Regions from separate parts of the Homo sapiens genome. Here all the other regions are reported to be linked to region 1. Evidence: microRNA targets listed by miRTarBase, many of them from high-throughput screens and not tested one by one. Region 1 holds a microRNA gene; each other region holds the end of a gene's coding sequence. Distances are from middle to middle.

Evidence for each region. The annotated mature microRNA hsa-miR-6785-5p reads UGGGAGGGCGUGGAUGAUGGUG and lies in region 1 at 2,497-2,518, shown strand. An mRNA with a match to its seed (bases 2 to 7 or 8) in the 3' UTR can be bound and repressed. Matches are read on the target gene's strand: a 7mer-m8 pairs with bases 2 to 8, a 7mer-A1 pairs with bases 2 to 7 and ends in A, and an 8mer does both.
Region 2: miRTarBase lists PHF12 as a target of hsa-miR-6785-5p. Seed matches in the 3' UTR shown: 7mer-m8 at 4,144-4,150 and 7mer-A1 at 3,646-3,652.
Region 3: the mRNA of OSBPL10 is a reported target of hsa-miR-6785-5p. Seed matches in the 3' UTR shown: 7mer-m8 at 4,308-4,314.
Region 4: the mRNA of ASCL2 is a reported target of hsa-miR-6785-5p. Seed matches in the 3' UTR shown: 7mer-m8 at 3,630-3,636.
Region 5: miRTarBase lists MBD6 as a target of hsa-miR-6785-5p. Seed matches in the 3' UTR shown: 7mer-A1 at 3,901-3,907.

Annotation. Positions count from the first base shown.
Region 1 is chr17:75,496,057-75,501,156 of GRCh38, forward strand. MIR6785 (microRNA 6785) reads left to right here and starts at 2,492; the gene lies at 2,492-2,572. It overlaps TMEM94 (transmembrane protein 94), which reads left to right. Exons shown (of 32, transcript NM_014738.6): 23 at 1-18; 24 at 226-415; 25 at 674-751; 26 at 1,057-1,142; 27 at 1,725-1,806; 28 at 2,119-2,267; 29 at 2,388-2,482; 30 at 2,573-2,666; 31 at 2,856-3,026; 32 at 3,206-4,396. The coding sequence ends at 3,278. CASKIN2 (CASK interacting protein 2) reads right to left here. Exons shown (of 20, transcript NM_020753.5): 20 at 4,205-5,100. The coding sequence ends at 5,024.
Region 2 is chr17:28,901,703-28,906,802 of GRCh38, forward strand. PHF12 (PHD finger protein 12) reads right to left here. Exons shown (of 15, transcript NM_001033561.2): 15 at 3,548-4,815. The coding sequence ends at 4,481. It overlaps DHRS13 (dehydrogenase/reductase 13), which reads right to left and starts at 1,377. Exons shown (of 5, transcript NM_144683.4): 1 at 1,116-1,377; 2 at 881-999. The coding sequence starts at 1,242. RefSeq lists silencers at 276-468, 970-1,599 and an enhancer at 4,144-4,644.
Region 3 is chr3:31,657,237-31,662,333 of GRCh38, forward strand. OSBPL10 (oxysterol binding protein like 10) reads right to left here. Exons shown (of 12, transcript NM_017784.5): 12 at 3,589-4,880. The coding sequence ends at 4,836. Among named protein-coding and RNA genes, the nearest start is that of OSBPL10-AS1, 44 kb to the right of the region's middle.
Region 4 is chr11:2,265,272-2,270,371 of GRCh38, forward strand. ASCL2 (achaete-scute family bHLH transcription factor 2) reads right to left here. Exons shown (of 2, transcript NM_005170.3): 1 at 4,462-5,100; 2 at 3,227-3,855. The coding sequence starts at 5,061. The coding sequence ends at 4,480. Among named protein-coding and RNA genes, the nearest start is that of ASCL2, 2.8 kb to the right of the region's middle.
Region 5 is chr12:57,528,698-57,533,791 of GRCh38, reverse strand. It overlaps MBD6 (methyl-CpG binding domain protein 6), which reads right to left. Exons shown (of 13, transcript NM_052897.4): 11 at 5,074-5,094; 12 at 4,783-4,846; 13 at 3,644-4,632. The coding sequence ends at 4,558. DCTN2 (dynactin subunit 2) reads left to right here. Exons shown (of 14, transcript NM_001261413.2): 8 at 489-554; 9 at 770-808; 10 at 982-1,059; 11 at 1,149-1,220; 12 at 1,477-1,579; 13 at 1,686-1,777; 14 at 3,017-3,741. The coding sequence ends at 3,103. Among named protein-coding and RNA genes, the nearest start is that of MBD6, 8.4 kb to the right of the region's middle.

The sequences.
Region 1 (5,100 bases):
CCTCCAGAGCGACATCAGGTCAGGGCGGGACCCTGGAGCCTGCGGGCCAGCCTCTACCTCCCAGACCGGAGGATCAGATGGGCCTGCGTGGGGCTGGGGGTGTGTACTATAGCCGACCTCGCCCTGGCTGGGACCAATGCACCTGGGCATGGTGGGAGAAGAGGGTGGGGTGCCCAGTCCTGTGGGAGATACAGCTGAAGTGTGTGTGTCCCCCACCCTGAGCAGCATTGCCCTGGATCCCCTGTACCCATCCCGTTGCTCCTGGGAGACCTTTGGCTACGCCACCAGCATCAGCATGGCCCAGGCCTCGGATGGCCTTTCTCCCCTGCAGCTGTCAGGGCAGCTCAACAGCCTGCCCTGTTCCCTGACCTTTCGCCAGGAGGAGACCATCAGCATCATCCGGCTTATCGAACAGGTGGGTGCTTCGGCAGGCAAAGGAGGAGAGACGCAGGACAGGACCCGCCTGGGGTGGGAGTAGCAGCAAAGGACCTGTTTGAACCCGGGGACCTCATTCCCCAGCCCTCCGAGCGGGCTCTCCCAGGCAGTTACATTCGCCTCTGCTCCCCTCGTAGAAGCATCCTGGGCGTCTGGCTCTTGGCTAAAGTGTGTCAGCTGTTGGGCCTGGGAGAGGCCAGGTAGACCCAGGCCATAATCTGTCCCTCTTGGTCCCTAGGCTCGGCATGCCACCTATGGCATCCGTAAGTGCTTCCTCTTCCTGCTGCAGTGCCAGCTGACTCTTGTGGTCATCCAGGTGAGGTGGGGCCCGCACAGGCATTGCCCCCGTGCCACTCACCCCTTCACTCAGGGGCCAGCTGAAAATCTGAGGAAGGAGGCTGGGGTTAGCAGTACAGTCAAGGGGTCCCCCCAGAGCCTCTGTGAAGCCCCTGGGCTTTTTGAGCTGACCCTCATTGGCAGAAGAGTATTCCCTCCGGCCCCTGTTCCCTCTGGCAGGATGTGAGCATCTATCTGGGCCCAGGGCAAGGGAGCTCGGGGGCTCCTATGCCCTTATTATTTGCCTGAATTGAACTGTGGCTCTTGGCTTCTTTCCTGGTCTAGTTCCTTTCTTGCCTGGTCCAGCTGCCGCCACTCCTGAGTACCACCGACATCCTGTGGCTGTCCTGCTTTTGCTACCCTCTGCTCAGGTGAGATGCCATGTATCTTCCCCACACCCCATGCCTAAGCAGGAGGTGTCTGGATGTCACTGTGCAGCCCCAGGAGCCCAAGGTTCTGGAACTGCTCAGGTCTCACCTCCTCTGGTACAGGAGGCATGGAGGGAACCCCCTTTGTCTTTTTTTTTTTTTTTTTTTTTTTTTTTGAGATGGAGTCTCGCTCTGTCACCCAGGCTGGAGTGCAATGGTGCAATCTCTGCTCATTGCAACCTCCGCCTCCCGGGCTCAAGTGATTCTCCTGCCTCAGCCCCCTGAGTAGCTGGGATTACAGGCACCCACTATCATGCCTGGCTAATTTTTGTATTTTTAGTAGAGATGGGTTTTTGCCATGTTGGCGAGGCTGGTTTTGAACTCCTGACCTCAAATGATCTGCCCATCTCAGCCTCCCAAAGTGCTGGGATTACAGGTGTGAGCCACTGCCGTCCAGCCTTTGTTTTATTCCATCCCCTCACCAGACTCGACCTCACGCGCAAGACTCCCTAGAGGTTCCCTCTATGAGAATTGAGGGACAGAGGGTCATTGTCACCATCCCTCTACCTGATCTCTGCTTTTCAGCATCTCTCTGCTGGGGAAGCCCCCCCATAGCTCCATCATGTCTATGGCAACGGGGAAAAACCTCCAGTCCATTCCCAAGAAGGTAAGCAAAACAGACCCTGTGAGCCTTGCAAGTGAGCATGGAAGGGACTGAGGATTGGGGGAGGAGAGAGGGGCTAATCTGGAAGGCTCTGGATGGGGGATTCCAGCAGAACTCCGGCACTTGGTTCCTAGTCTTCCCCCAGATCAAAGAGGAGGTAGTGGCACAGAGCTGGGAAAGACCCTTGCTGGGGCTTGAGCTCCCTATCCCCCCAGGCCTGACCATTTACTAAGAGCCCGTTGAATACGTGGAAGAGCTAGGAGCAGCCGGCAGAGGGGCTGTGCGCCCCAGGAGTGACTGGCCTTGTTCCCGCAGACCCAGCACTACTTCCTGCTCTGCTTCCTGCTCAAGTTCAGCCTCACCATCAGCTCCTGCCTCATCTGCTTTGGCTTCACACTGCAGAGCTTCTGTGACAGCTCCCGGGACCGCAACCTCACCAACTGCTCCTCCGTCATGCTGCCCAGGTGGGTCCCAGCCCCAGAGATCCACCCATCGCCTGCCTCGCCTCGAGGCTTCCTCCCTCCCCACCCCAGCCTACCTCCCTGCGGCCCTAGAGGGGCTGAGCCCATGCCTCACTTTGGCAGCAACGACGACAGGGCTCCAGCCTGGTTTGAGGACTTTGCCAATGGACTGCTGTCGGCTCAGAAGCTCACGGCCGCCCTGATTGTCCTGCACACTGGTGAGAGGGCTCCCTGGGAGGGCGTGGATGATGGTGGGAGAGGAGCCCCACTGTGGAAGTCTGACCCCCACATCGCCCCACCTTCCCCAGTCTTCATTTCCATCACCCATGTGCATCGCACCAAGCCCCTGTGGAGAAAGAGCCCCTTGACCAACCTCTGGTGGGCCGTGACAGTGCCTGTGGTGTGAGTATTGCTAGGATGGAGGGCGGAGTGTGGGCTGGGGAGGAGAGGGCCTTCTGCAGGGCTAGGATCGGAGGGCGGGACCGGGGCCAGTGGTTTAACTGTACCCTGCCTGAGCTAACTGTTGTACTGGGAAGAGCAGGGAAGGAAGCAAGCAGTGTCGGGTTCACACGGGGCCGCCACCTCCTGCAGGCTGCTGGGTCAGGTGGTCCAGACGGCTGTGGACCTGCAGCTGTGGACACACAGGGACAGCCACGTCCACTTTGGCCTGGAGGACGTGCCCCTGCTGACATGGCTCCTGGGCTGCCTGTCCCTGGTCCTTGTGGTGGTGACCAATGAGATCGTGAAGCTACATGAGATTCGGTGAGCTGTCAGCAGGGCGCCTCCCTCTGGGCTCAGGCATGTTCCCTAAACCTGTTACTCCCTTGGCGACACTCCCCCACCTTTCCGCTGCCCATCCCTCCCTCCTCCTCTGGTGTCCTGCCCCGGCCCCTGGTCTAAGGATCTTTGCCAACCTGTACTTTAATCTCCTGCCCCACCAGGGTCCGAGTCCGCTACCAGAAGCGACAGAAGCTGCAGTTTGAAACTAAGCTGGGCATGAACTCTCCCTTCTGAGCCACTGGCTGTGGTGGCTGTAGTTGCCCCCGTCCCTGGGGCTAAAGCCAGACCCATTTCTGAACAGGGGAGTTTGTATCATGAATGTTTCCAGGTTTGCTCCTGCACCCGTGGCACTGGAAACCCAGCTCCCCGTGTCAGACCCCGCTGTCTTCCTGAGCCCTGGGGCTCACTGTGGAGGAGCTGACGGCCTGGGCCCTTGGCCAGTCCTGGCTCTTCCCTGGGCCTCACCAGGGACACTCTTGAATGTATGGCCTCAGGCGCTCCCTAGAGGGGCCCTAAACCCCCTCACCTGTGAGCTACCCCCTTTAGGGATCCCTTGCCCCCTTGGAGATCCCTTGCCCCCCAGTGCCTCTGCTCGTGGGTCCCTGGACACGGCCTTGAAGCCAACCTTCTTTGGAGGAGCAACAGCAGCAGCCTTGGCCGACGCGTCCAACTCCCAAGGCTGCCGTGGAGGGCAGGGGGGTGGTGCTTGCCTGGATGTGGCCCCGAGTGCCTCCCCTCCCTCCCTCTGTGGGGGAGTCTCCCGCCTGAACCTGAAGATGGAGCAGGGCCCCCGCTTCGCCCTGGAGCCTCTTCCTGTGCCTGGCTCAAGCTGGCTGCCTGTCAGTCTTGGGGAATCTGGCCCAGGTCTCCTCAGCCTCTGCCCCAGTTCTGGGAGAAGTTTCTACTGGTGTATATTTTTTACTGGAAATGAGCCTTTTAGGAATGAATGTAGACTGGTTTGTATTAAAATGTGTCAATTGCTAAGAAATACCTGTGGCTGGTCTGTAAGGCCACTCCAGGGTCTGCCCACCCCCGGCGGTGGCTGGCAAAGGGAGGCCTAAACCTTCCTCCATCTACGCGGGTGGGTCCCTCAGGTCTGGCTCAGGCGAGACCCCTAGGGTCAGGGGTCCCCATGTCACAGAGGCAAACACACAGCCCAGTCACGTGGAATGGTGTTTTCATTGGTGTTAGTTGGGGGAAGAGGTTAATGGTTACAGAGCCAGGGCCTGGGCCAATGGGGTCAGGCTCTCCCTGCCCTCAGGTGGGCAGTCGGGGCTCCTGCTGTGGTCCGAAGCCCCTCCCCCATTGTGTCCTCTCAGGCAGTTGATAGAATAAATTCCATTTAAAATATATGCATTTCTCTCTGCTTAGAAAATAACATTTACAATTGAAAAGTTAGGACTTGTGGGATCTGTTAACCCCACTGCCTCCCACCCCTGCTAGCCCTGCCTCAGTGAGGGAAGGCGGGGGCAGGAGCTGCCTGGGCACCACCGCTGTGTATTTACATGTCCTCTGTACACCTACGGAGAGGGGGCCCGGCCAGACACACGCCTCCTCCAGCCTCTCAGGGCCTGGGCAGGATGGTGGGTGGCAAGAGGCATTCCCTTGGCACAACTTGGGACATGGGCTGGGGGGTACAGAGAAAGCACCCCCAAAGCCCCACCCCTACTTCCTCCCTGAGGAGAGAGCTCTTACCAGGGTCCCTGTCCAGGAGCAGGGCTGTCCTGCTCAATCGATCAAACCCTGGGAGGGGCTTTGCTGAGATGCAGCGGAGGTCCCTCGCTAGTCAGGTTCTAAGGTGGGCTGCCCCACAAGAGCTGTGGTGCCCACAGCCGCGGGCTGAGTGGGAAGGGGCCCTGCTAGGAGGGGCACTTCAGCCTGACCAGCCCTTGGCCCGTCCCTAGGGTGGCAGGGGCCTCTTCTGTGCTGGGGCAAAGGCAGTGGACTTCGGCAGGTCACAGTGGGCACTGCTGGAGGGCTCAGTCCAGCATGGCGTCCAGCTGGTCAGCCAGGGCGTCGAACATGGTGCTGATGTCATCCAGAATGTGCTTGGTGG
Region 2 (5,100 bases), 47 Mb from region 1:
CTACTGTTTACTAAAATCTGCCCCTGTGTCTTAGAGTGTACTAGATAAGTGTGTGGATTCAAATCCTGACTTTGCCTTTTACTAAAGTGTGACCTTGGGCAAGATACTTAATCTCTCTGGGTCTCAGTTCTCTCACTGCGTAAAGGGAATAATAATAACAACAGTCCCAATCTCACTGAGCTTTTGTGAGGATGAAAGGAGTTAACGTGTAAAATACACTCTAGCAGCACTGGGTAGGTACTTGCTATTATTATTATCACCTCCTTTCCCCATTACCATTTACCCTAAAATCTGTAACTTCTCACTGGTCTCCTCTCTCCCGCTCTTGCCCCCCCACTCCAGGCACCACGCAGCCACAAAGGAGTTCCTTCCAAAGGCTATTCTGACAGTCCGGAGCCTACTGAGGGCTGTTCATGGTCTCCACTGGTCTCTGCTGCCCAATCTATAAAATCCAAGCTTCTCAATAGGCTCTAGAATGTTCTCCAGCCCCCTCATTTGCCCATCTTCCTCATACTTTGTGCTCCAGCCTCATTAAATCTTTTTCTCAGTTTTTCAGATCAGTCCAGCTCTCTTTGCCTCAGAGCCTTTGCTTATGCTGTGCCCTCTGCTGTTCCCTTTCCTACTGATCATTAACCCAACTTCTACTGATGCTTAAACGTCTCAGAACTGCAATTACGGCCTTCAGGAAGCCCCTCCCCCACTCGGCTCTGGTGCGCCTTCCTCGGGTGACCCCAGCGCTCCGTGCACTCCCTCTTCGCGCTCAGCCGCCCGCGCCGCGCTCTCCTCCCTGGACCCGGATCCTCCGCAGCCCCTTTGCTGGCTTCTCTGTGTCCCGGCGGGTTCTCGGCTCACCGTCCCACGCGCCCCCGCTGCCTCTCACCTGGCGGAGGTCGAAGGCAGCCGCCTCCCCGCGCTCCTGGCTGCGGCAGGCCAGCACCACGCGCGCTCCCCGGCGCGCCAGCTCCAGCGCCGTCATCTTTCCGATGCCGCTGTTGGCGCCTGCGGACCGCGGGCGGGAGCCGAGCTGAGCTGAGCCCGGCGGGCCGCTGCTACCGCCGGCCCGGCCTCCTCTCCGCGCGCCCCGCCAGCTCGCACTCACCCGCCTCCGCACTCACCCGTGACCACGGCCGTGCGGCCCCGCAGGTTGCCCATGCCGCCGCACGGCGGGGCCTTCACCAGGTTGTAGTAGACAAGCACGTAAGCGCCCAGCAGCAACCCCGCGCCCAGCAGCAGCGCCTCCATGCCGGCCGCGCCTCCCGGCTCCCGCCCAGGCCCCGCACCGCCCTGGATCGCCGCCAGGCGGCTGCCGATCCGCCCTGCACAGGCCTGGAACGGCGCCCGGGCGCGTCAGCCTCCGAAGGCGGAGGCGGGCAGGAGGCTGGGCAGGGGCGTGTGCGCGTGCGGGTGCGCGCCGGCCCTGCGAGCGCCCCCTAGGCGTGCGTCGGCGTCCTGGGGGCGTGTGCCTCTGTGGACACCTTTGAGGTGAGTGTGTGCGCTTGGGCCCTGGGAGCGCCCCCTAGGTGTGTGCCTGTGTGAACTCCTGGGTGTGTGTGTCCACGTACACCCTGTGAGTGCACGCTAGGTATGTGCATGCATCTGCAACGCTTGTATGTGAATGATCTCTAGGTGTGTATGTGCCCATGTCCCTGAGGATCACCCTTTGGGTTGTGTGCGTGCCTCTGGATCCTGTGTGTGAGCTCCTGTAAGCACCTTGTAGGTGTTTGTGTGCATTCTGGCAGAGTCCCTCCAGGTATGTGCCTGCATCTGTAGTCTCTGCCAGTGCATGTGCTTGCATATCTCCATATGTTTACTCGAGGTGTATGTAGCACAGTCCCTCCCTTCTGAAGTTAGGTGTGTACATGAATACACGTGTGTCTTTGAGTCTAGTCCTAGATGCTTTTCCCTCTAAGAACAAATCCTTCTCCTTCCTTCCCTTCTGCACAAATCCTTCTCCTTTCCTTCCTTTCCTTTCCTTCCTTCCTTCCTTCCTTCCTTCCTTCCCTTCCTTCCTTCCTCCCTTCCTTCCTTCCTTCCTTCCCTCCCTCCCTTCCTTCCTTCTTTCCTTTCTTTCTTTCTTTTGAGACGGAGTTTCACTCTCGTTGCCCAGGCTGGAGTGCAGTGGCGTGATCCCGGCTCACTGCAACCTCCGCTTCCCGGGTTCAAGCAATTCTCCTGCCTCAGAATCCAGAGTAGCTGGGATCACAGGTGTGTGACACCACACCCGGCTAATTTTTGTATTTTAGTAGAGAAGGGTTTTCACTATGTTGGCCAGGTTGGTCTCAAACTTCTGACCTTAAGTGACCCACCTGCCTCAGCCTCTCAAAGTGCTGGGATTACAGGTGTGAGCCTCTGCACTGGGCCAAATCCTTCGTTTTCTTATCTTCACATCCAGCCCCCAGCTTCTAGGATTCTTCCGTGTTCTCCCCACACAGGCTAGAGAGGACACTGTTAAAGGTGGCACAGGCAGTTAAGGGGTGTCAGAATTCACTCCTTCATTCCCCCTCTGTATCTCCCTACCTCAACCCCACTAGTGCCTTCCATGGCTGAAGGGAAGCAGGAAGAGATAGAGAGTAAAATCTGTTATTGCCTTTCAGGAGGAAATTTGCCTTTGGAATGGTTCTCATAGGTGATAAGAGACAGGCAGAGAAGCTCCATCACTCAATTACAAGTGACCATGATGGCAGGAAGGGTGGGGCTGGCTAGGAACAAATGGGTAAGACCATTCCAGGGCAGAAGGCCGTTGCCTGATACATTCAGTACAATTTAGAACCTGGTATTTGGCACTTATGGTGTGCCCAGCAGTGTAGTTAGACTTGGAAATTCCGAGTGGAAGATATACAAGTTTCTGTCCTTAGGGAGTTCAAAAAGCCCATTAGGGCACCGGGAGCAGAGTGATGACGCCTGCATGGGCAGATGAAAGTCAGGGACAGACCTCAGATTCCAGGGCCAGTTTCCTATTTAGCTGCACTGCGGATTCGGGTTTCCATTGTAGATGCTGTGGGATGAGGCTGGGGGTAGAATATTCATTTTCTATCCCTAAGGCAAAATCCTGACACACAAGCAGATGCACCTACACAAACAGTGCTGGAATATACACAGAGGTGCTCTCCATCTGAGGAGGCTGACCTCAGGAAAACTTCCTGGAGAGTTTTTCACTAAGATCTGGGAGGAAAGCATGGAATTTGGTTTAATGAAGGTCCCCGGGACTTGAGAATTAAGGTAATGCAGCAGACTCGTTTTTTGATGAGGAATAGCAGTTGTAGAGAAGTGTGACTGCAGATCACATGACTAGAAGTGACAGGTCAAGACTAGATTCCACTATCAGTCAGGGTTCTCTGGAGAAACAGCTCCCCCCGGGCCAGCAGACGCACCCATGTCATTCCATTGTCATCCACCCACCCTGGCTCACTTTTCTCCAACACCTCCCCTACCAAACTTCCCTATGGGAATGAGACCTGTTCAAAAGGCCCCCCACCTGCTAGACCCAGATCTAGGGGAGGGTCTCCTCTAAGGGTGATGACAGGTAGGACAGACAGTCAGAAAACAATTTGAAGTATTTTTGTTTTTTATATACAGAATACAGGAAAGTTTCTGTAAAGTCTAAAACATTACAATTACTATGTACATTGGTACTGGTTGTGGGGGTGGGAGGAGAGGAGGGAACCAGGGGCAGGAGGAAGAGGAGAGAAGTGGCAAGAGAACAAAAAAAGGAGACAAAACAGGTTTACGACAAAAACATTTTTGCTACAATAGACAATTTGAGAAAACGCTCTACCACATGTAGTACTGTACACGGTTTTTAAAAACATTGAAAAAATGTCATCACTAGATGTATTTACACAAAATCCAAATACACTTTTCCTTATTTGAAATAAAATAGATGGACAGCCAGAAAAAGAATTCATTTCTCATTTGTCCATAATACACAGTAGCTACCTGTAGTGCAACCGCTGCAGAAAGGGAAAATAACGTGGAGGGTGGGAACCATGGAAGGAAGGTGGGTAGCGATCTTTATATTAAATAAAACAATGATATTGTATAGATTTTGCTGTATGAAAACTGTATTTTTTCTTTTAATATAAAACTATTGTCACTGCCACAAAATAGAACAAGTTTCTGATTATTTTACAATGGTGGGCGAGGGGGAGGGAGCAGGAGGTGGGTGGGGAAGGGTTTTGTGTTGGAGGAAGTGTCCAGACCCTGGGTCTTTCCCTCCCTGCCCACGCTGTTCCTCAGCTCAGGTCTGCCGCTTTCCCATGAAATGTTGAGTACAAATATATGTGCAAATGCCCCCTAGAACTTGAGAAAAGAAAAAGGATTTTTAAAAAACAGTCAAAAGGTTTTCTTCATTTCATGCAAAGATTGTAGTTGAAGGGTTTCTGGTAGAGTATAGAAAACACCCGGGCTTGGTTTGTGTACATTTTTGCATTGCAGGAGTCTTGGGTGGGTGTACAGGCCAGTGGCGGGGTAGCCGCCAGTCCTAAGGAACAGAGTTGGAGCGCAGCACAGGGCCCTGGTGGGGCTTGAGAGAGAGCTTCTCGGCCAAGACCCCATCCTGCAGCAGGCTGGCATCGCCTTTGGGCTGTTTGGTCGCAAACTCAGTGATGCTGAAGACAAACTGCAGGCAGCCCAGCTTGATGTAGCTGCCATGGTGCAGTAAGGCTGTGCCCTCCCAGCCGGCCCCACTGCCCCCAATCAAGCTCGAGCTGCTGGCTTTGCAATTGCAGGGTCTCCGCTGCGGCCCCTGGGCCTGGGAACTCATCATGGCTGCCTCCTCACTTGGCTCTTCGTCCTGTTTCTGGTGCCGGCGGCGCCCTGGGAAAAAGGGGGATGGTCACAGAAGAGGAACAGTGAGCAGCCAACCCATGTGGGCTGTTTGCCAAGGTTGGGCTCCTGCATCTCCCCATTCCAACTGCTGCATGACTAGGGAGGAAGGATGCTCAGAAAGGGTTGGTGGAGTCTGAAGTCCCCACAGGTGTGTACACACATGGGGGTACTCAGCACTTGCTTCTCTGTGGCCTGCCCTGGGCCCACGAGGAAGTAGAGCTTGGCCAATAGGACTGGGAAGGCAAGAGACAGACCATGGGCAGCAAGTCAGAA
Region 3 (5,097 bases), not on the chromosome of region 1:
ACCTTTAGCTAGATTGACAAAGAAAAAAAAATAACTAAAATTAGAGATGAAAGTGAAGACATTACTACCAGTTCTACAAAAATAAAAAGGATCCTAAGAATACCATGAACAATTGTATGCCAACAAATTGAATAACCTAGACGAAAGGGACAAACTCCTAGAAACACACAACCTACCAGGATTGAATAATAGAGAAACAGAAAATCTAATTCATCTTATGAGGCCAGCATGCTCCGGTACCAAAGCCAGAAAAGACACAAGACAACTACAGATCAACAACCATTATGAATGAATATTGATTCAAACATCTTCAGTGTAATACTAGCAAAGCAAATTCAACAGCATATTTAAAGGATTATTCACCATGAGAACATGGAGTTTACTCTTAGAATGCAAGGTGGTTCAACATATGAAAGTCAGTGCAATGCACCACACATTAACAGAATAGAGGGGGGGAACCACTTGATCAACTCATGCAGAAAAAGCATTCTGACAAGATACAACACCCTTTTATAACAAAAACACTCAGCAAAATAGAAGTAGAAGGAAAGTACCTCAACATAATGAAGTCCATATATGAAAAACCCACAACCAATCTCATAATAGTGAATGGCTGAAACCTTTTCCAGTAAGATCAAGAACAAACAAGGATTTTTTTTTTTTTTTTTTTTTTTGCCTCCTTCCTTCAACACAGTATTTGAAGTTCTAGGTACAGCAATTAGGCAAGAACAAGAAATAAAAGACATCCAAATTTGGAAGAAGTAAAATCTGTTAGCAAATGACATGATTGTATCTAGAAAATCCTAGATCCCACACACCCCCCAAAAAACTGTTAGAATAAACAAATTCAGCAAAGGATACAAAACCAATGCACAAAAATCAGTATTATGTGTTTTTTACGAAATGAGGTCTTGTTATGTTGCCCAGGCTGGAGTGCAGTGGCTATTCACAGGAGCAATCATAGCATGCTGAAATCTCAAACTCCTGGGCCCAAGCAATCCTCCTGTCTCAGCCTCCTGAGTAGCTGGAACTATAGGCATGTGACACTGTGCCTGGCACTTACACTTTTATATGCCAACATTGAACAATCCAAAAAGGAAACTGAGAAAGATCTACTTACAGTAGTACCAAAAAGAGTAAAATACTTAAGAATTAAACTTAACTGAGGAAGACTTGCCCAGTGAAAACTACAAAACATGCTGAAAGAAATTAAGACAGATAAATAAATGGAAAGATATTCTGGTTAACAGATTGGAAGACTTACTGTTAAGACAATGCTACTCAAAGGGATCTACAGATTCAATGCAATCCCTATCAAAATCCCAGAGTTTTTTGCAAAAATAGAAAATTTCATCCTAAAATTCACATGGAATCTTAAATGACCCTGTACAGACGAAACAATATTGAAAAAAGAATAAAAAAGTTGGAGGTCTCATACTTCCTAATCTTGTAACTTGCTACAAAGCTACAGTAACTAAAAGAGTGTGGTACTGGCATAAAGACTGACATCGACCATTGGAAAAGAATAGGCCATAAATAAACATTCGTGTATATAGCCAGTGATTTTCAACAAGGTACCAAGATCACTCAATGGGGAATGCAGAGTCTTTTCAACAAATGGTGTTGGGGAAACTGGATATCCACATGCAAAAGAATGAAGTTGGACCCTTATCTAACACCATATATAAAAACCAACTCAAAATGGATCAAAGTACCCCCTACCCCCCAGTAAGACCTAAAACTATAAAACTCTTAGAAGAAATCATAGGACAAAAACTTCACAGCATTGTATTTGTCAATGATTTCTTGGATATGACATCAAAAGCACAAGTACAAAGAAAAATAAATTAGACATTATCAAAATTAAATACTTTTGTACATCAGAGGACACCATTAACAGTGAAGAGGCAACCAAAGAGTCAGAAGAAAATATTTGCACATCATATCTGATAAAGGATTAATATCCAGAAAGGATTAATACCCATAAAGGACTCCTAAAACTCAACAAAAAGAACCTAATTTTAAAATGGGCAAAAGGATTTGAATAAACATTTCTCCAAAGATTTACAAATGGCCAAAACCACAAAAACACATGCTCAACATCACTAATCATTAGGGAAATATAAATCAAAACCACATTGAGATGGCACTTCATAGCCATTAGGATGGGGTTAAAGAAACAACAAAAGTAAAAACAAAATAATAGGTATTGGTGAGGATGTGGAGAAATTGGATCCCTTGTGCATTGCTAGTGGCATTGCAAAATGTGGCAGCCAGCTCTTGTGAGAAACTGTGTGGCAATTCCTTAAAACTTAAACCAGAATTTTCATATGATATAGCAATTCCACTTCTCAGTATATTTTTAAAATGCCAGGCTGGGCACAGTGGCTCACACCTGTAATCCCAGCACTTTGGGAGGCTCAGGTGGGTGAATCACCTGAGGTCAGGAGTTTGAGACCAGCCTGGCCAACATGGTGAAACCCCATCTCTACTAAAAATACAAAAATTAGCTGGGCATGGTGGCACACGCCTGTAATCCCAGCTACTCGGGAGGCTGAAGCAGGAGAATCGCTTGAACCCGGAAGGCAGAGGTTGCAGTGAGCAGAGATTGCGCGCCATTGCACTCCAGCCTGGGTGACAGAGTGAGACTCCATCTGGGAAAAAAAAAATAGTTAAAATGGTAGATTTTGTTACATATATTTTACCACAATAAAACATAATATGAACTCAGCAAGAAAATGAACAAATAGAGCAACAAGGATTGAACTAGAAAGAAAATATTGGCTCAAATAGGCAAACTAGGGTATGATTCAATTTTTACAAAAATGGGTAAAACCAATCACACTGTTTAGAAATACACACATAGTGTGTATAGTCTAAAAGAACAACAAAAAACCCATAAGGGGATGGTTATTCCAGGAAGGCATGGAGAGGGATACAATTGTATAGGGGCACAATAGTGGCTTTTAAGGTACTGGTAAACAGGTTTCTTTGCTTAAGCAGTGGCTACAAGGGTATTTATAATTATTCCTGGAGTACATATGTTTTATGTAAATCTCCTGACACATAACATTTCACAATTTTAAATGTACCCCTGGCCTCAAAAGAAAAGTGAGCCCTCTCCATGTTTTACTTCCCAGATGGTTTATGCTTTGTAGTCAGACTGGAAAATCCAACAACACAGTGATTACTTTTCAGTCTCATTGAGTTGAGTTTTCTTCTTTTTCTCAAAATAGCATTTGTTCCACTTTCTCTGTCAGAAATAAGATGGTTCCAGATACTTGATTCACCCAGATGCTTTAAAGACTGTGGACCTAAGTAGGCTTCTATTGTGACTTCTGGCAGTGACTCTTCTCGTGAAACAACACTCACTGGGTAGGAGTTAAATGTTCTTATGGACTTACCAGAAAATATTCATAAATGTTTATCTGGTACATTTTTAAATGTGTTAAATACTTTTTCCATATAGATATGATTGCTCTTCATATCAATAACTAGAAATATTTAACCAGGAAAAGTTGAGCTCACTTAGAGCCACCAATTTAATAGAACTGTTGAATCCCTGAAAATAAAACACAGACACAGATATGTATTCAATCGAAATATATTTGTCTAATATCTACAAAGTGTGAACAACTGGTCTTAAGAAAGCAGACAAAAGGCACAAAATTAGTATTACTACAGAGAAGCATTCATGCTATTTGGATTTGATAAATATTGGAGTGGCACAGTAAAAAATAAATTAAGCATTCAGCAAAAACCAGATATTTCATTTTTTCCTTGCTTTGTATTTTCGTCACTCCTTTGACCTCATGTGTAAAGGCTAAAAACTGAAATTTAACTGAAACCATGGAATATTTATGCAGGCGTTATGTATGTTTTAGTCACAGTGCTTTCTTGCAGAGTTTGGGTTAACCAGAGAGGTGCACTTGAGGAAAAAATAATCCACAGGAAATTCTCTTCTCTTTCCCCAAACTAAATACAAGATTGAGGCTGTGGTTGTGCATGTTTTCATGTGCATGCATGTATTTAACTTCTAAAGCCCTTTTTCATCACAAAAGAAGTCTCCATATGATTGACTGGTTTTCTGATGTAAAAGAAGCAACTTCTCAAAAATGAATGACTAGCGCTGTGACCATGAGAGACGGGTGGAAAACTCCTTGGTGGGCCTTGGCTCTTAGTTGTCCCAGAGGTGCTCCATCCTGCAAGGCTCTGGCATAAATCTTTAACAGCTTCCTGCCAACCCCCATCCAGCAGGAAATACTTGCTTATCTTTCTTGGGCGCGGACAGACAAAACACTGAGGTGGGGAGGGAGGTGAGAATCACAATAATTTTGAAATGATAACCACCCATACTTCTACCAGGAATGAGCCACTTTCTCCCTTATGGACAGTGATCGGGCCATGCCAGTTCACCTTCATTTTGACAGGAGTTGACTAAGTGAGAATATCTTTGTGAGTGTAAAACATTTTTGGCAAAGTGAAAAATAGAAAAACTTCAAACTTCATTGATAAAAAGGAGCTTATGATTACCCACTTTAACCTTGGTGAGTGCAGTATTTAAATGTGTAATCATACTCAGATGTTTACATAGTGCATGTGTGTGAACGTATACGGTGTGTACACACACGTGCCCCGAATGGCTCTTGAATAAATTCATTCCTCTAGCAGAGTGTGGGGGTGCACTTTTCATAGTATATAATTTCTCTCTCTCTCATCATTTCTTGGATGCTAATACAAGGTCTCAGTGAATGCCAACAAAACCCTGATACTCTACTACTTTAATATTCCTACAAAAACAGGGCTATACTGGAAAGCTCTGCACCTCCACCCCATCAGTGTGCTTTCCAGAGGGGATTGAAGTATACCCAGCCATCGCCCTGCAAGAGAAGAAAGGAGGCATTATTACATGGAGACCTCTCAACAGGGAAAAGGGGAAGCAAGGATAACCGCAGCCACTCTGTGTGTCTGCCGTGTCTTAATACCTCACACGCAGGCCAGGCTGCTGGCCTCAGTACCCCTCCTCAGCCCAGCTGCTCTTTGGAGATCTAGATGACCTTGACCTTCCTACCCTGGCATGGCAGGAGGAAACCCCAA
Region 4 (5,100 bases), not on the chromosome of region 1:
GTATAAAATAAGAAGTATAAAATAGTAAGTCAAGAGGTTGACTATAGAAGAAAGAAAAATGCTTTATATTTTAGCACCTTGAACATGACATCACGATCACCTTCTCCCTGGAATCAGTTTCTAACTTCCAGGTGGGGACTAGGCCTGGACCATGAGCTCCTAGCAGAGCCCTGCTGCCCCCACAGCAGAGCCCAGGACAGGCTGGCACCTGGGCCAGGTGAGGCTCTGTCCAGGCTCACTGATCTCAAATGCTGAACTGCTAAGGATGTCATGTCCCCAAAGGAGCCGCCAGGCTCAGCCTCACTTCCTGGAAGGCGTGAACATTGCAAGAATGTGGAAGTGAAAGAGTCCAGGGCTTAAATCTCAATTCTCATCATTTTCAAGCTGAGTCCAAGGGAGAGAAGACAGTCATGGATTCTTAGTTTCTGTTTCTGGTTGAGCCAGCAGGGTCCCTTCCTCATCCCTCTTTTCTGCTTATCACTAGAGACAGAAACTAAAACCATGACTTTAGGCTGCTGAGAGCCTAAAACAAAACGACAGCAAGAGAAGGTGGGTTGGACCAGCTTGCCTGTGACTTCAGGCACTTCATCTTTACTGGGCACTGGGTGAATGACAGTGTGGGGAGGGGTCTTCATAACACGGCAATCAGCAGCCCACTGTGCCCAGGAGACTCGCCTGTGGTCCTGGTTATCAACCACAGCCCTTTCCAGTCTCAAAAATGTCCCCGCTGGGACAGCAAGTTACATCGTCGCTACAAGTCCTGTCTCCTGGGAGATGCAGTCCAGCAGCACTACATCCTCTGAGCAGCAGGTGCCAAGTGGGATGAACTGGATAAGGACTGCATTCGGGGAAACGCCCGTGTGAAAGGAAATACACAGGAAGGAGGTGGCAACGGGTGGGAAGCCACTAGACCACGACGCGATTCTGCCCCAGTGAAGGCGAGGGGATAGCCTGGGCCTAGATCGCTGTGAGGTCTATGGAAGTTTCCACAAGCTTGCTGGGTAGTTCTCGAGGCAAACTCGGAAAGGGAGTCCCTTGTCTCCCTGGAACGGATCTTTCTTGGCATCTCTGTCACACTCATTAGGTGGGCCTGGTGTCAACCCCATTTGCAGGCCACCCCAAACTTGATCAAAGGTCCGCTTCTGGCACCCCATACCCTGTCCTACAGGAAATACAGGGACAGGCTCCCAATAACAACACCCAGCACGGTGCCATCAACACCACCACGCACACGGGGGCTCAACGGAACAGACATCTCCGCTTCTTCAATGAAGACACTGGAGGGAAATTGCTTACAAGGCGCTTAAGAGACCTATTAAGCAAACTTGATGTGTGGACCTGCGGCGGATCCCGATTCTATAAGGCCAACTGCACAAAACCACGAGACCCCCTGAGGACTGCGCCATTGGCTGGGTCCCCGATGATATGAAAGAACGGTGGTTCATTTGAGCGGGTGATGTTTTTGCGGTTTCCTTTAGAGGCACACGTGAAACATGACGGGTGAAAGGATTCAAAGTCTGGGATTTGCTTCAAAGCAACGCAGGGATGGCGTGGGGGATGGATGGGGCAGGAAGGGCCTTGAAACTGGTGCTGGAGGCTTCCCAGGGCTGCCCTGGAGCCCAGTGCGTCCTCCACCGGCCAGACTGTACAACGGTTGGATCCTGTGTCCACTGCTAGGACCCAGGCTCCACGAGCACGGGCTTGTGTGGCACACGGATGCACCCTAAGTCCTGGCACAGAGACTGCTCAACAAAGGCCTCGGTGCTTTTGTGTATGTTTGAAATTTTCCATAATAAAATGAAAAATGGGAAAATGGGAAAACAAAAATGGCAGCACTACTTACCCTCTGCAGAGTTTTGTCCGCTTCACGCCAGTGGGTGGCAGTCGTTTCCTCTGCCCTGGCCTTCCATCGTTTCCCCCCTACCCTCTTCACCCACCCAACAGCCCCCTGTGGTCCTGGCAGCTGTGGGCCTTTCCTTGAGGTCAAGGTGTGGAGTCCTGGGGAGGGCTCAGGGAGGCCACCGACCCGGGTGTGGATTCTGGGAGAAGCCTGTGGGATGTCCCTCCCTGGGTGACCACGGCAATGTGCCCCCTCCTGTCCCTTGGCCAAGGCCAGTTCCCTGAGCCCTGCAGCCCCAAGCCACAGCTGGTCCACTGACCCCAGTTGAGCCTGGTCCTCATCAGACCAGCTGACCCCTTTGACCCCCGCTACAGACTCGGCTTTGACCTTGGCTGCTGAGGAGCCCCCACCTGGACTGAGGCTGCAGCTGGCGAGAGAGGAGCCCTGAGCTCCTCTGATAAGAAGGGACCTGGCCAGCCTGACGTTTGAGACCCAGGCATCCCGGTAGCCTGGGTGTCCTGTTGCCGTGGTTATTCAGGAGCCACCCACTCTGGGACAACACCAGCTGCTCCCACCTCGCAGGGCTCCCACGGCTCTGTCCCAACCACTCCTTTCTGAAGGAAGGGGTGCCTCTGCGCCCTAAAGAAACCGGGGGAGCCCCACAACCCCTCCCCCACCAGGACACTAAAAGGCAGCTTTCGGTACAGTGAGACATCAAAGCCTCCTAGGCCCTGAGTCAAAGGTATAGCCGTGTAATATCCCAGTGCCAGCTCTCCGGCTGCGGGGAGCCTGGCGCAAAGCTTCCAAGCCTTCCTTGTTCCTTTCAAGAGCCGCTCTTAGAATTCAGGTGAGCGGAGACCTGCAGGGCCTCCCCAGTGCGGGCAAAACCCAAAGCTAGCGAGAGGGCAGCCTCCAGGCACCTCTCACTAACTCCTCCCAGAGGCCGTTGAGGTGGGTCTGGTCAAACCCATTTGCAAGTTAACCCACTTGCCCTGGGCTGCCCAGCTGCCACGTTAGTGGAGATCTGAGCGTGGTGGCCTGCGCAGGAGCCCATGCCCTCAGCCCCACAGCCGGTGCTCTCTGGTCAGACCACCTCAGCCTAGCCCCACACCCAGCACTTACCCCAGCCCTCGGGATGGGTCAGCAGCCTCCAGCCTGCAGCTTCCAAGCCAGCGAGTAGCCCTGTCTGGACAACCCACCAGCCCACCACCTCCTGGAGGATGCCCCCAGCCTCACAAGGTGTCCCAATGGCTCCGCTATCAACGGCCTGGCTGCACTCCAGATCTCACCCAGACCCACCCTACGGAGGAGGCAGCAGGGTTTGAGGAGTAGTGACCACGGAAGTCTGGCCGTCACCTGGGAAGTGTAGGTGATAGGAGCCACTGGTAAACAGAACTGATTTATTTATAAAGTTCACGCTCCCTTGAAGAGGTGTGCCCCACACAGGCTTCTCCCTAGCAGAGCAGCAGTGCCCACAAACCCACCCCAGGGTGGGCTGTCACGGGGGCCTCACGCCAGGGACCCCGCCCCTCAGGGACTGCTCGTGTCCAGATCTTGGCCAGCATGGAAAACTCCAGATAGTGGGGGCAGGGGTCCAGGTCATCTTTATTACGCCCCAGGTCAAGGGTTCTTTGTACAAAAATAGGTCTCCGTTTGCCAGCAGTGTCCCTCCAGCAGCTCAAGTTAATGTGTAGAAAATGGATTCTCTGTGCCCTTAGAAAATCCTCTCCCCTCCGGAAAAATCTCCAAGTGTTGGTGCCCCCCGCCCCACTGCAGTCGAGAAGCTGTGGGGAGGGGCGGCGTCGGAGGAAGCCGCCAGCCCTTATGGGGCCAGCTCCAAGCCCGTTTCCACCGCGGCATTGGTCAGGCTGGGCCGGACGAACGAGGCGGCGTCGGCGGTGCGGGGGGTGGTGGGTGGGTCCCCGGCTCGCTGGGGGCGGAGCGCGGGCCGGTCCACCTGGCGGGCTCCCCGGCGATGAGCGCGCCGGCCGCTCGCTCGGCTTCCGGGGCTGAGGCTGCGGGGGGAAGGTGGGGAACCAAACGCGCGTCAACGCGGGCGCGGGCCCGGGGCAGACCCCGCCCGGGCCGGCCCTGCCCGCACCTCCCCCAAGCGAAGTCGGCAGTTTCGTTTGCTCGGTTGGTTTTGGAGTCTTGAGTCCGTGGGTGCCGCGACTCGGTCTGAGACACGGCGGGGGCGGGGCGGGCGCTCGGAGCCGCGGTGAGTCAGGGCTCCGCGCCCGCCGACTCATTTCTGCCGCCCCGGCCCGGGAGCGCGATTTGCAATGCAAAGTCACCCCGCCTCCAGCACCCCAATCTGCCCCAGGATCCGCCAGCACTAGAGACCTCAACGGCCCGACGGCCGCTCCCCTCCCCTCGTCTACCCCTCCCTCGTCGGCGGCTGAGCCGCGAGGGGAAGTTTTGCAATCCCGGACAAACAAACGCCGGTCTTGCACGGGCTTGAAAAACTTTGGGGGAAATGAAGAGTGAGCGAAATCGAAGCCATCGCTCGGGCCTGGCGCTCGGCTCCGCGGGCTCCTGGGGGCGCGACCCGCCGGGCCTGCCCACCCCGTCCCTCCACCCCGGCCCCCGGCCCTCCCTCCTCCCTGCCTCCCGGCTGTTACCTCATAGGTCGAGGGCGCTCAGTAGCCCCCTAACCAGCTGGAGAAGTCGAGTAGCTCGCGCTCCGCAGGACTCAGCGCGCCTTCGCAGCCGCTGTCGTCCGACGAGTAGGCGGAACGCGGGGAGCCGGGCTCCGAGCTGCCCCCGCGGCCCGGGGACGAAGAAGCGCGGGAGGGCGAGGCGGCGACCGGGGTGGTCCCTGGCGGCCCGCGGGGCGCAGACGGCCGCACGGCCTGCGGCCTCAGCCCTCCCGCCAGCGCGTTGCGCACGGCGTCGTGCTCGGCCAGCAGGCGCTGCAGCGCGCGGATGTACTCCACGGCTGAGCGCAGCGTCTCCACCTTGCTCAGCTTCTTGCTGGCGCCGCCGTGCGGCACGTGCTGCCGCAGCGCCTGGAAGCCCAAGTTCACCAGCTTCACGCGGTTGCGCTCGCGCTCATTGCGCCGCGCTACGGCCGCTGCGCCGCCTCCGGTCTCTGCGGTGGCCGGTCGCCGCCGCCGGCTGCAGCGCAACAGTTCCGGGGACGCGGGTCTCCGCCGGGCAGCGCAGCCGACAGGGACGGGGGGCGCAGGGGGCGCGGACCTGGGCAGTGTGCCGCCGTCCATCGCGCCTGCATCCACCCGCCCGCTCCAGGTCCCGGCGCG
Region 5 (5,094 bases), not on the chromosome of region 1:
CTTTCTTTTTTTTTTTTTTTTGAGACGGAGTCTTGCACTGTTTCCCAGGCTGGAGTGCAGTGGCGCAATCTTGGCTCACTGCAAGCTCCGCCTCCCGGGTTCACGCCATTCTCCTGCCTCAGCCTCCTGAGTAGCTGGGACTACAGGCACCTGCCACCACGCCCGGCTCATTTTTTGTATTTTTGGTAGAGATGGGGTTTCACCATGTTAGCCAGAATGGTCTCGATCTCCTGACCTCGTGATCCGCCCGCCTCGGCCTCCCAAAGCACTGGGATTACAGGCGTGAGCCACCGCGCCCGACCTCATTCTCTATGTTTCCCTCGCCCATCTACCTTTGGTTAGGATTTTAAGATTGTGGCTAGGTATGTATTCCAGGGAAAGGAATCCCTTGGGGTGGTGAGTGGCAGGCAGAGTAGAGCAGGATCGTATTCCTCCCATTGCAGCAGCAGGGAAGCAGATGGCAAATCTCACCTCCTTCCTCCCACTAGGTCGCAGAACTTGAAAAGCGCCTGACAGAGCTGGAGACAGCTGTACGTTGTGATCAGGATGCTCAGGTCAGGTGTTCTCCTGTACATAATCTGAGCCTTAGATCCTGCAACTCTAGGCCTTAAGGTCTACAACATTCCACATAAGCCTGGGAGGAGTCATCAAAGGGCTTCAGTTACAGGGATCAGCTAGTGGGTTCCCAGCTAGAACCAGGAAAGATGGGAGAAGACGATAATCATGGAGATATAAGGACCACTCACTTCTTCCCTTCCTTTCCCACCAGAATCCCCTTTCTGCAGGTCTACAGGGAGCCTGTCTCATGGTGAGTTTGGAAGAAACTGGAGTGTTTGGATCACAGAGGGGATAGTTGGGTTTGGGTTTGCTTTGAGGATTATTTTTGAGTTTGTAGCTATATATTAATTTAGTGGAATATGGGAGGCCTCTTGCTAGTCTGCCTTTCCTCTTCATGATGCTTGTCCCAACTTCCATCCCCAGGAGACTGTAGAGCTGTTGCAAGCAAAGGTGAGCGCCCTAGACCTTGCAGTTTTGGATCAAGTGGAGGCTCGGCTACAGGTATTAAATGGAGGGAAAATTAAATTATGGATAGCTTGGGACTCTGGAAGCCCTGGATGCCCTATCAACCTTAAAATCTGTGTTTTCAGAGTGTCCTGGGAAAGGTGAACGAGATTGCCAAGCATAAAGCCTCTGTAGAAGATGCAGATACACAAAGCAAGGTCAGGAAGACACCTTCCCCATCTCCTTTCCACTCCCTCAGGTTCTCCGAGTGGCAGTGTCAAAGCATGAGAACACACTGACTCCTCAGGTCCCCATCTTCATAAGCTCTTATGAAGAGCTTATCAGCTTGGAAAGTCAGGGCACTGCTTCCCTCTGCCCACTTGATCCTTTCCCCCATTACGGTGAAATAGCAGTCTGTACATACTGACCTGGCTGCCTCAGCCATCCCCTCTGGGCCCCATTGTGTCCCTTCAGGTGCACCAGCTATATGAAACTATACAGCGCTGGAGCCCCATTGCCTCCACCCTCCCTGAGCTGGTGCAGAGACTTGTCACCATCAAGCAGCTGCACGAGCAAGGTGGGAGGCCAGCTGCCAGGAGTGCTAAGAGAAGTTGAAAAATGGGCAACTTTTGGTCCCCTCCCTTATCTTGGATTCAAGTCTCAACCATACTTTTCTTTTGTAGCCATGCAGTTTGGTCAGCTCCTGACACACTTGGATACCACCCAGCAGATGATTGCTAATTCCTTGAAGGACAATACCACCCTCTTGACCCAGGTGTGTGCCCCTTTGTTGATCTGTCCTCCTTTCTCCAGCATGTGCAAACTAGGTTCTCCAGTGTTATAGGGTTCTGCCTTAGCCTATTTTGTAGCATGGTGTTGTGGCAGGGGGTTGGTCTGGAGTCTCCATCCTGCTTTCAATGTGAAGGCCCTTTGACAACTTATTTAACCTATGAACCTCCATCTTTCCATCTGGGAAATTATACCTCCCTCAGAGTTATGTAGATGAGGTGAAATAATATGGGCAAATTGTTAGGGGCTAGTGAACATGTTTTCTTATAAAACCCCACTCTTTCCCTTTGTCGTCTCAACTTTACTCTCCCTGATAAGCACAGTACACTGGAAGGAATCCGGGCTTTGAAGTCAGAAGCAGGCCCTAATCTCGTTCTGTCGCTTCCTTTCTGGCCCTGGACAATGAGCCTCACCTAGCTCCTTCATTCTTTTAGTAATGCCTGGCACACAGCAAGTCCACAATTTCTTATTGTTTTTTATTTTTAAGACAGAGTCTCGCTCTGTTGCCCAGGCTGGAGTGCAGTGGTGTGATCTCAGCTCACTGCAGCCTCCACCTCCCGGGCTCAAGCAATTCTCATGCCTCAGCCTATTGAGTAGCTGGGATTACAGGCACGCACCACCACACCTAATTTTTTTTTTTAGTAGAGACGGGGTTTCACCATGTTGTCCAGGGTGGTCTCAAACTCCTGACCTCAAGTGATCCCACCCATCTCGGCCTCCCAAAGTGCTGAGATTACAGGCGTGAGCCACTGCACCTGGCCGCAAGTCCCAATTTCTGTTGGAGGCACTGTTCTCAGTGCTGGAAGGAGCATTAAAGTCGAGAGACCAGCATCAATCACAGGATCACTGAGATAAATGAAAAAATATATAAAGGACTTAGAATAATATCCTTTTCCTCCAGAGCAGTTTTCTAACATTTTGAACCAGTGAAACCCTCATTTCAACAAAATCTTATTTAGCTCTCATTACATAAAACAGATTTTAAAAAACTGTTCTGGCTGAAGTCAGGATGGGAATTCTCGAGTCCTACCTGCTTGGGCTCACCCCAAGCGTGGTCTATGTACTCTAAGGGTAGCTTGAAAATTGGTGCTATAAACATCCCCCCTCTGTGGCCCACAAATTGTGCTTCCATTTCTTGTCTTCTCTCTCAGAGAATTCCTTCAGGTCCTCATCCAGTTAAGCAACTGGACCTGACAAAGAGTAAAACCTCTCTACCACTTTGTAGGTGCAGACAACCATGCGTGAAAACCTGGCCACAGTTGAGGGGAACTTTGCCAGCATTGATGAACGGATGAAGAAGCTGGGAAAGTGAGCACATTTGGGAGCTGGAGAACAGGGGTTATCCCTACCCCTGTGAACTCTGTTAACAGCTTACATAGGGTTTCCCCTTTACTATAACTCTAGCATCCCCATCCCATTTGACACTGGGGGCAAGGGTTCTTCTTGCATGTGGGGTTTATACCCCTCCCCTGATGAATACAGAGTGGTAGCTAGGGGTTGGTTATCATCAGAAGGTGGTCTCCCCTCAGGCCTGGGGGATAAGGACGTGGGCCCAGCCACATGCCAACTCATGTCCAATACTGCTTTGCCTGGTGTGGGGAAGGATTGGGTCTTGTCCCCCAACACAGCTTCTGTGGCTGACTGTAATACTGTACAACTGTTTCTGACCATTAAATGCTGTTGTACTCTGTGTGGCCTCTGCTGTGTTTCCTGGGGAGGAAGCAGCACTAGGATATAGATATTCATTCGTCATAACAGGCAATCTAAGCCACTCTATACTACAAGAGATGGATTTAAATTGTAACCTGTTCTTACCAAAGAACTAAATAAAAAATGAGTACAGAGCCAGAGCCAGAGTTTCAAAATATTCTCATCTGTTAAATTAAGAGTGTCTCCCATAGAAAAGCAGTGGAGGCCCCACAGGGCAAGTACAAAACAGAATTAAAACTCCCAAGGGTCTTGTCTTTACAAAAGAAAAGGCAGGAGGCAGCCCCTGGACAGCTGGTCATGCTGGCCGCTCCGGTTGGACCACGTTGCATAATCCTCAGTCGCATCATCACAACGTCTCTGAGCGTTTTGATGGGGGGAGAAGGGGCAGTGTAGTGTGTATGGGAGGAGAGGCCCAGAGGGCTCTCTTTGCCCCCTTACCCCCTTTTTTATATCCCAGAGGAAAGTCGGGGGAACCTGGCTACACCTTGAAATGAGGCTATGTGTTTCAAACCTGGGGACGGGGTAAGAGAGGATCTGTGCTTTGAGCAACCTGAGCCAGAGGCAGAGGGGTGTTGGAGGGGTAAGGGGAGGATGCATGATGCTTATTGCTTTGTACCTTTCACTGGGAAGGAGGGCAGCAGCCAACAGTAGCTCACAGGTTTGTAAACTGAGCCTGTTGGCTTTAAGAAGGGAGGCAATGAAATCGAATTAAATATAAAAGAGTCATTTGTGCAAAAATAACTTAAACAAATAAAAGACCTGGGGAAGGGGGTGTTCCCCTTAGCGCCTGGTGGGGAAAGGGCCATATACCATCCCCCCCAGGCCTTTTCAGTGACATGGCTTCGGGGGGGCGGGGGGGTGGTGGGGGGGGGTGAACTTCCCTGCCCCCTGCAATGGCTCAGGATGGGATTGTAGGGGAAGGAGTTGCATTTGTGCTCTGAGTGGGGAGTAGTGCCCCCACCCACTGTCCACAGGTGCAGGTGGCTGGCAGGGGCTCCCAAGGCTCAGCACTCAGCTCTCCCCAATCAGGGTCAGATCCAGCTCCAGGTATGGCTGCTATGGGGCCAGTTTCCTCCTCTTGTTTTTGGCAGGACGGCCAGGGCGGGCCCGGGGAGGCAGAGGGACAGCTGCCTAATATCAGAGGGGAAGTTGATAGAAGTGGTCAATTGCTAGGTATCAGGAAGTCTTCTTTTCTCCCCACTCCCTCTAACCCTCCTTTCCTCCTGCCGCCTCATCCCTTACACCCTACCCATCCACCCATCCACCCAAACACACACTTACTCGGGCTGTAGGGCTGGGTTCCAAGGTAATGTCCTGGCGGGAGCTATTGCTGTTCCGGGTAGGGCTGCAATAAGGGGCACAGATGATCAGGAACAGCTCCCAAGCACCAGGTGAATTTCAGAAGTTTGGGTGGGAAACTTTCTACATTTGGATAGTAAAGGCATAATATCCTTATTCATATTCAAATAAGAATCTGCCCTTTTGAAAACCAAGCCACTATTTGGACATTAGAACTGTCCAAACCAAAAAGAAGTAGGCAAAGGCCAGCACTATAGTAGGCCCAACACTCACTTGTATTTTCTCCTACGGCCA